2 linked regions of the Homo sapiens genome follow. The protein of the gene in region 1 interacts with the protein of each later gene in a pairwise test. Each region holds a gene or a part of one and is shown on either strand. Other genes may lie near its edges. The genes, in order: MPHOSPH9 and WNK1.

Region 1 (4,504 bases):
AAACGTATGCAAATAAGGTTATTCTGATTTGGTACATTTTTTTTAAATCCCATTCTTACCTATCAGTATTTAAGTTCAGTCCAAGAGAATGAAGAGAATTTTCATCAGATCCTACAGAAGATGAAGTTTTGTGTAAGGTTTTCACCAAGTCAAACTCTTCCATAGTGTACAGAAATTGTTATATTCTCTTATTGGAAAATAAAGGTTCTTGGGCTGTTTGAGAAAAATGAATCCGTGTCATCTTCAGAGGCTTCATCATCTACTGGCATTTTCAGTGGCTAACATTCAGAACTGTGAAATATCCTAAACTTCCAAGAGAGTCTGAAAATGAATGGGGGAAAAAAATACTACTATAAAAAGCCACCAAAGCTAGCAACTGTTTTTACATAACTTTGGAAACCTTAACTGCTTTCATACAGATCTCCATTAAGGATAGCAACAGTATTCATAATAATCAAAATGTAGAAACCACCCAAATGTCCATCAATGGATAAATGGATAAACGAATGAAGCATATTCATAGAACAGGATAGGATTCAGCCATAAAAAGACACATGCTACAACATACATGAACACTGAAGATACTATGCTAAGTAAAAAAAGCCAGTCACAAAAGACCACAGACTATATGATTTCATTGATATGAAATATCTTGAATGGGCAAATTCATAGACAAATGGCTGCCAGGAGCTGGGGAAGGAGAGAATGTGAGTGAGTGCAGCTGGTATGGAGTTTCTTTTTGGGGTGATAAAAAATTCTGGAATTAGATAGTGGTGATGGCTGCACAACCTTGTGAACTAAAAACCACTGAATTGTACACTTGTAAAAGACTGAATTTTATGGTATGTGAATTATGTATCTCAATTAAAAATCTACATTAAGGATTATTTGCAAAAGTAGCATCACCTTTTTCAGGTAATATTTCAGATTTTTATATGTTTAATAATCAAGGTTCTTTTTTTTAGAGACAGCATCTTGCTATGTTGCCCAGGCTGGTCTACAACTCCTGGCCTCAAGTGCTCAGCCTCCCGAGCAGCTGGGATTATAGCGCAAACCATTTTGCCAGGCTTTACAATGAAAGTTCTAGATATAATTCTATTATGTAACAATTGGAATACTTGCATGCCTTGTTCATTTGTTTAATAAATTCTACCAAGTATATATGTTTGTTGACTTATACAGAGACAAGAAGAACTGAACTACTTAATATTTAATTTGTATTAAAAAGAGCCAATTAAACTGTTAACAACCATAGCTTCCCCATTGTCTGGAAGTACATTTTGAACTATATATATGGTCTTTTGTCTCTGTGCAGCTATTCTTAGAAAATAAACCACTGGGCACACTGGAGCCTGCCTGCAGCTACTGGGAGCATGTCCCAGCTACTCTGGAGGCTGAGGTGGGAGGATCACTTCAGCCCAGGAGTTCAAGACTGCAGTGAGCTATGATCCTGCCACTGCACTCCAGCTTGGGCAACAGACCAAGACCCCATCTCTTAAAAAATAAAAATAAAAATAAAAAAATTATTTGCCAGGCCAACTAAAATTTCAGTGAAGCTGGATATATACCATGGCAAATTGGCTGTAACAGGTCAAACAAGATGCCTCCTTCCTGGGGAATTCATGCACTTATAAAAGAGCAAGGGAGCAAGAGGAAAAAGGAGAAAGAAAGAAAACTTCAGCTGCTTACAAACTGAAAAGCTTAGAGAGTGCAACAGGAATATTATCTAGTATTCCGCTTCTGCTAGATTCCCACTTTCTAGGGCCTGCTTTTATAAAGCATTACACAAAAACAGGGACCATTTCCTTCAGGGACAGGAGTGAATGCAAAGGGTAACCGGACCTAACTAAATGGACTTTTCCCCAGTGGCTCAGCCCATCACCCACGACAAATGGGGCATTGAAACAGTCAAGGACTGCCCCTTCCAACTGGCAACAGAAATACCTGGATTCCAATCACCATGCTATTACACCAGGAAAACACAAGCTCTCCAGGGAGATGAACCTGCAACCCCATCTATTATTTCCCCTGCTAAGGTAATCCGGATCCGGATGCAGATCCAGATGGAAAACCACTAGAAATTCAAAGATGCTTCTCCATTTGGGGTGGAGGTGCTGGGGGGAGGGCAGGGAAGTAAGAGGGAAAAATCCTTAAACACCCACAAATACAATGCAAAAAAAAATTTTTTTAACTTGATACAGAATGAATATAAGAGCAGAGCTTTTATATTTCCCAGCAACAAGATATGACGCTTTTGGTGTCCCTACCCCCTAGCAAAAAAAGGGAGCTGGGGAAAAGGAACGATTGATGGTTATGAAACATGAAAGTTAACTGGGCGCTCCGCCTTGACGGGAGGCTTGGGGGAGAGGAAGAGATTTCAGATGGGGATGAGGCCAGATCCCGACATTCTGAGCTCACAGTCAGCCCGCAATGGCTGGTGGCGGCTATCGGGTCAAAGTGGGAAGGAGAGGGAGAATCTATGCAGTCGCCTAAGCTACGGAAAGCAGGGAGGACGGAGAAAAGCCACCGCTCCTGCAACTACAACCGCGATTCCAAAAGGAAACCGGGGCACCTTGGCAAAAAATGGGGGGAAAAATTAAAAAAACCCCACAAACCCCCCGCCCCTCAGGAAGAGCGATCTGCGATTGGGCCGCGCGAGTGTCACTCAAGGGCGCCGAGTCTAGAAAAGGCGCACCGCGGCCGGGCAGAGCTCCCACACGCCGAAGGGCTCCGAGGGGGTCAGGCCAATCGGCAGCCGTCACCCCACACCCCAGCCCATCACCACACTCAAGGGGCCGCTAAGACAGTGTCTCCTAAGTCTCGTCTCCTGTCCCCAGCGGCCTACAGCTCCCTGCAGGCTGGTGGCCGCTTACCTGGCCGCCGCTCCCGCTGCCGATGTCAGGGTCATGCAAGCGGCCTCTCGCGACCGTTACCCGAGGGAGCGCGCGCGCGCCCGGCGTCTCTCCAGTGATTGGCTGCCCGGAAGGAGGCGGAGACAGCCTCGCATGGCGCGCGCGTCCACCTCGCCGTTCCCCCTCGCGCAGCTCCAACCAAAGAGAGACATCCAACCCCGGGGGAGTGACAAGGGGGCGGGATTGCTGTGAAACTCTCTTCTCTGATTGGCTCTCTGGGAGCCAGCCGCTGCCACGAGGGAAAGAAGCTTCAGTTTCTCGCATGCGCAGTGAGTAAACATGAGCCTCTGGTAGATAAGAGAAACCGCGATCGGAGTACGGCGCGTGCGCAGATCAGGGATCGCGATTGCGAATCCTCCGCTGAGGTGATTTGGATATCCCTAGAACGTTGAGGGCACGAGTCGGGTCCTGAGACCAGGTAAGCATCTGCGGAGAAGCCAGGTAACCCTACGGCTGCCGACGACTGTCAAAGGCTCCGGAGAGAGGACTGCGAGCCGGGACGCCTGGGTTTTTCCCGACTTGCGACCCCGAGTGGCGCAGCCAGTTTACCTGAGGCCGCGCTGGCGGTGGGGTGGGGCCGGCCGTGACACCCGAGCTCAGTTTTCTCGGGACCTGGTTTACGCTAGGTGCTGTGGGTCGGCCCTGGGGCTGTTCAGGCACTCAGGGCAGGGGAGAGGAGAGACTACCGTCCTGGAGATAACGGTTCCACGGAGGCCCAAGGCGAAACGGAAGGATCCTCATGTACAAAACTGAGCGGAATGGAGCTGTGAGCACGCATCAGGTGCTGTTTCAGGCCTGGCACGTAGTAGAGGTCAGCACTGCCCTTGCTAGGCTTTTGCGGAGATACTCGTTTTTTTTTTAATAGACGTGGGGTGGGGGGGTCTCACTGTGTTGCCCAAGCTGATCTCGAACTCCTGGCCTCAAGCGATCCTCCTTCCTCGGCCTCCCAAAGTGCTGGGATCACAGGCGCAAGCCACCCAGCCCTACTTTTGAAGGACCAAAGGGAACTCGCTCTCCTCCCCGTGGGACCCCAGCCCATTTCATGCGCACTGTGCAGGCCACATTCTTCAGCATAGTTAACCTTTAAGGTCTTTCCAGCTACTCGATTTACCTCCAGGAGTTCTGGCTCACAGTAAAGGGACTTCCCTGGCACTATCACTTAGGCCTCCACAACCCAGGAAATGGATCTGCCCTTGGAATAACAGATCTGCCAGGAGGCGTTACATCTCATTGGAGCTTCCTAAGTATACCTACCAATTTTTTTTTACTTTTTTTATTTTTGTGGGGGAGGGGGGTAGGGGGGACAAGGTCTCTCTCTGTCACCCAGGCTGGAGGGCAGTGGCGCGATCTCGGCTCACTTTAACCTCTGCCTCCCGGGTTCAAGTGATTCTTCTGCTTCAGCCTCCCGAGTAGCCGGGAATACCGGTGCCCGCCACCACATCCGGCTAATTTTTTGTATTTTTAGTAGAGACGGGGTTTTGCCATATTGGCCAGGCTGGTCTCGAATTCCTGACCTCAGGTCATCCTCCTGCCTCGGCCACCCAAAGTGCTGGGATTACAGGCATGAGCCACCACGCCTGGCAATTTTCAAA
Region 2 (3,811 bases), about 120 Mb from region 1:
CAGGCTGGTCTCAAACTCCTGGCTCAGGTGATCCACCCACCTTGGCCTCCCAAAGTGCTGGGATTACAGGCGTGAGCCACCGTGCCCGGCCCTGGACTATATTTTAATTGGGATAGATAGAGAGTTTCTAATCCTTTGGTGAAATTATGGTAGTGTTAACACAATTAGTTGAAAAGTAAAAGAAGGTTAAAATATGTTAAAAAGCAGTTGCAAACTTCTTAGCAGTTCCATTCTCTGGAAAGGTTCACAGATATCCAAATGTAGCACATTAGGGCCAGTTCATGCAGCCCATTAGTAGAGATGTGATTGTAAGAGAAATCAGCTAATTTCTGATCTGATCCCAATCAGATCTTTTTTGTTTTTGTTTTTGTTTTTTTGAGGCAGAGTCGGCAGTGGCTCAACCTCCAACTCCCAGGTTCAAGCAATTCTCATGCCCCAGCCTCCCAAGTAGCTGGGATTACAAGCATGTAATCCCAAACCAAATGTATAAGAACACCTGGCTAATTTTTGTATTTTTGTATTTTTAGTTGCACTATGTTGGCCAGACTGGTCTGAAACTTCTGGCCTCAGGTGATCCGCCCGCCTCAGCCTCCCAAAGTGCGGATTACAGGCATGAGCCACTATGCCCAGCTATGATCCTAATCAAATTCTAATCCTAATTTTGACATACTTTTTGAGTGGACTTGAATTCAACTGGGAACCGGGGAGCAGAGAGTCAATTTTAGGACAACCGACCTATTGAAAGCAACCTACCAAAAATAATTTTAAACACCCATTGCTCTGTAGTGACCTCCATCATTTTTGAACACCTCTTTTGTATTTGCTCTGATGCACGTTTATAGGAAAGTCTAAGCAGAGACTGCCTAGCAAACCTTTTTGTATAATGATTCAACACATTTTCTAATAGGGTAAAAAAAAAAGCAATCATGGAATTGCAGAATGGAATCTGGGTATCCACTAGGTACTCTGGTCTTCTTACGCTGCTCAGACATGTGGCCCATCTAGGTTTTCTAAAGCTAAAAAGCTCTGGAATAGTACATATGGCCCTATTACCTATGGATTCTTTTCTTTTTTTTTTTTTTTTTTTGAGTGCAGTGGCATGATGTCGGCTCACTGCAGCCTCTGCCTCTGGGTTCAAGCAATTCTCCTTCCTCAGCCTCCTGAGTAGCTGGGATTATAGGCACCCTCCACCACGCCTGGCTAATTTTTATATTTTTAGTAGAGACAGGGTTTCATCATGTTGGCCAGGCTGGTCTCGAACTCCTGACCTCAGGTGATCCGCCCACCTTGGCCTCCCAAAGTGCTGGGATATTATAGGCGTGAGCCACAACACCCAGCCTATCTATTGAGTCTTAGTGTCATTCCTCACTTCTCCCGTTAGTGAGGACTTTGTTCTTCTCATCAGTTTGTAGCTTTTGACCCATCATTCATCACTCAGTGGAACAAACCAAATGTATAAGAACAGTGCCTGATGAGTGCATGGGAAGAGCTGGACATGTTTCCTCATGCCACTTTATCTTTTGGCAGGTAACCTGTCTGGTCAGAGTGCAGCTTCAGTCTTGCACCCCCAGCAGACCCTCCACCCTCCTGGCAACATCCCAGAGTCCGGGCAGAATCAGCTGTTACAGCCCCTTAAGCCATCTCCCTCCAGTGACAACCTCTATTCAGCCTTCACCAGTGATGGTGCCATTTCAGTACCAAGCCTTTCTGCTCCAGGTCAAGGTAATAAAGCAACCATCATCGTCCAAAAACAATAAAATGGAGATGTTGCCATACCTGGGACAAAAGCCTGTTAAGGCGGGTTGGGAGACTAGCTGACCAGAACACAGCCTGTGTGTTGTACACTGAAGAATCTGGGTGAAAAGGGAAGTGGAGTGATAATGAGAATCGGTGGGCTCACTGCTCCCATTAGGTGAAATTACTTTTTTTCAAGGAATTACAGTGAAAAGTTACATCTGTGTGGCCTATATGACTTGCTCATTTGGGATTTGGAACTTAGGCTTTAATATTAGGCTGAGATTTCCTGGATGAAATTCTAAGGTGTTTTAGCAGTTTCTGAAGCTAATACATTTTCTTAGCCATTGTAGAATTTTGTTACTTTTAAGTATGGGAGTGGCATACTAAAATGAATAACCTTACAATTCAGTTTTTTATCCATAATCTACTTTCCAAATATAGCTCTGTTTATTAGTGATTGCTGAAAAAATTCCCACAGAGGAAAGAGCTTTTAGTCATATTAGAACAAGAATTGAAAAGACTTGGGCATCTGGGTGAGAAGAATGAAAAAAATATAGGTACTGGCTTATGTGCCTTTGCCACAGTTTCACAGAAATTAGAGATCAGTCTCTTCACAGGAAGAATGCACTTGATTGGTAAGGAGGGCAAACTAGCTAGCATTATTCGAACTAAGAAAAGCTTCCGCATTTTGCAGATGGGTAGAATTAAGACCTAATATTTCATCTCTTACATATCTGACCTTCCCCCCAGAAGCTTGTTCTTCTGTGTGCCATCTTAGTGCATTTCACCACTCCAGCCTCAAGTTTCTAACATCTTGTAGTTGTGTTCTGTCTCTTCTCCTCTCTCTGTTCTACCCTGTTTTTCCCCTCTCACAGGCTGTGCGAAGTTTAACTGTGCATCTGAACAGGTGACATTCAAACCTGGTGGCAGGAGGACCCGATTTCTGAGTACGCCCTGCTTGGCTCTTTGTGTGTAACACCTTTACTCCTTCCTTGTCCTTGTGTTTCTGCTGCTTGGATCTGATGTTTCACGCAGTCCATTTTCATTTGTCTCTTTTTGTATATCATCTACTCAGTGGCTTGGCTGAATTACTGTTACCCTCAGAAGTTTGGGCCCCCACATTAATTATGATAAAAAATGTCAAAATAACAAGTTATCTACAAATTTCAATGTAACTTTCTGGTAGAAGTGCTTCTTCATGGATCTGTGACAGAGAGTGGATATGGTATCTAGGCAATAGATTGCTGGGTCATTTAGAATAATGAAGACTGAACTCCACAGTCGTAGTCAGTGCTGTCTGTCTGCCCTAGCATTAGAAATGAGAGAAATCAGCCAGACACGGTGGCGTACACCTGTAATCCCAGCACTTTGGGAGGCCGAGGCGGGAAGATTGCTTGAGGCCAGGAGCTCGAGACCAACCCTGGGCAACATGGTGATACCCCATCTCTAAAAAAAAAAAAAAAGTTAGCCTGGCATGGTGGTGTGCACCTATAGTCCCAGCTGCCCAGGAGGCTGAGGCGGGAGGATTACCACCTTAAGACCAGGAGGTTGAGACTGCAGTGAGCCATGATTGCACCACTGCACCCCAGCCTGAGCGACAGAGTGAGACTCTATCTCAAAAAAAAGAAACGAAATGAAGAAAGCATTTTGACCAATGATGCTCTTAGATCCTGGCAGCAGGTAAAAATTATGTACCATTTTTTTCCATTCTTTGTCAGAGTAGATTGAAATCTTATTTTTCTTCTCTATTAAGCCTAAGCAGCTACCAGTTGAAAAGATGCTAGGATCTCTTCATTGGATCATTCCACCACTACTGTCCTCTAACCCCATAAAATCAAAAGCGGTTTTTAGTTTGGTTATTCTGATAAAGCACTTAGTCTAATAAAGATCAAAGCCCAGCATCTGCAAGTGAAAATTCTCCTTCTAACATGATTTCTGGGATTTTGCAGCTTTCTACTTAAAAACAAGGCACAATAGCAAGTCACCCCATCTTCCCCATATGTGAAATGGAGATGATGCCAGTGTCCTAGGGCCATCGTACAAATCAAGCTAAGATCATGTACAGAGAAACAGG

What was found.
Region 2: the proteins of MPHOSPH9 (region 1) and WNK1 interact in a two-hybrid assay, tested with the Homo sapiens proteins (one large-scale study listed by IntAct).

Annotation. Positions count from the first base shown.
Region 1 is NC_000012.12:123,230,202-123,234,705, forward strand, and holds the start of MPHOSPH9 (M-phase phosphoprotein 9), read right to left. Parts: upstream 2,941-4,504; 5' UTR 2,874-2,940; exon of another isoform or gene 2,713-2,873; intron 322-2,712; 5' UTR 164-321; coding exon 60-163; intron 1-59. UniProt on the Homo sapiens protein: Negatively regulates cilia formation by recruiting the CP110-CEP97 complex (a negative regulator of ciliogenesis) at the distal end of the mother centriole in ciliary cells.
Region 2 is NC_000012.12:898,949-902,759, forward strand, and holds part of WNK1 (serine/threonine-protein kinase WNK1), read left to right. Parts: intron 1-1,527; coding exon 1,528-1,722; intron 1,723-3,811. UniProt on the Homo sapiens protein: Serine/threonine-protein kinase component of the WNK1-SPAK/OSR1 kinase cascade, which acts as a key regulator of blood pressure and regulatory volume increase by promoting ion influx.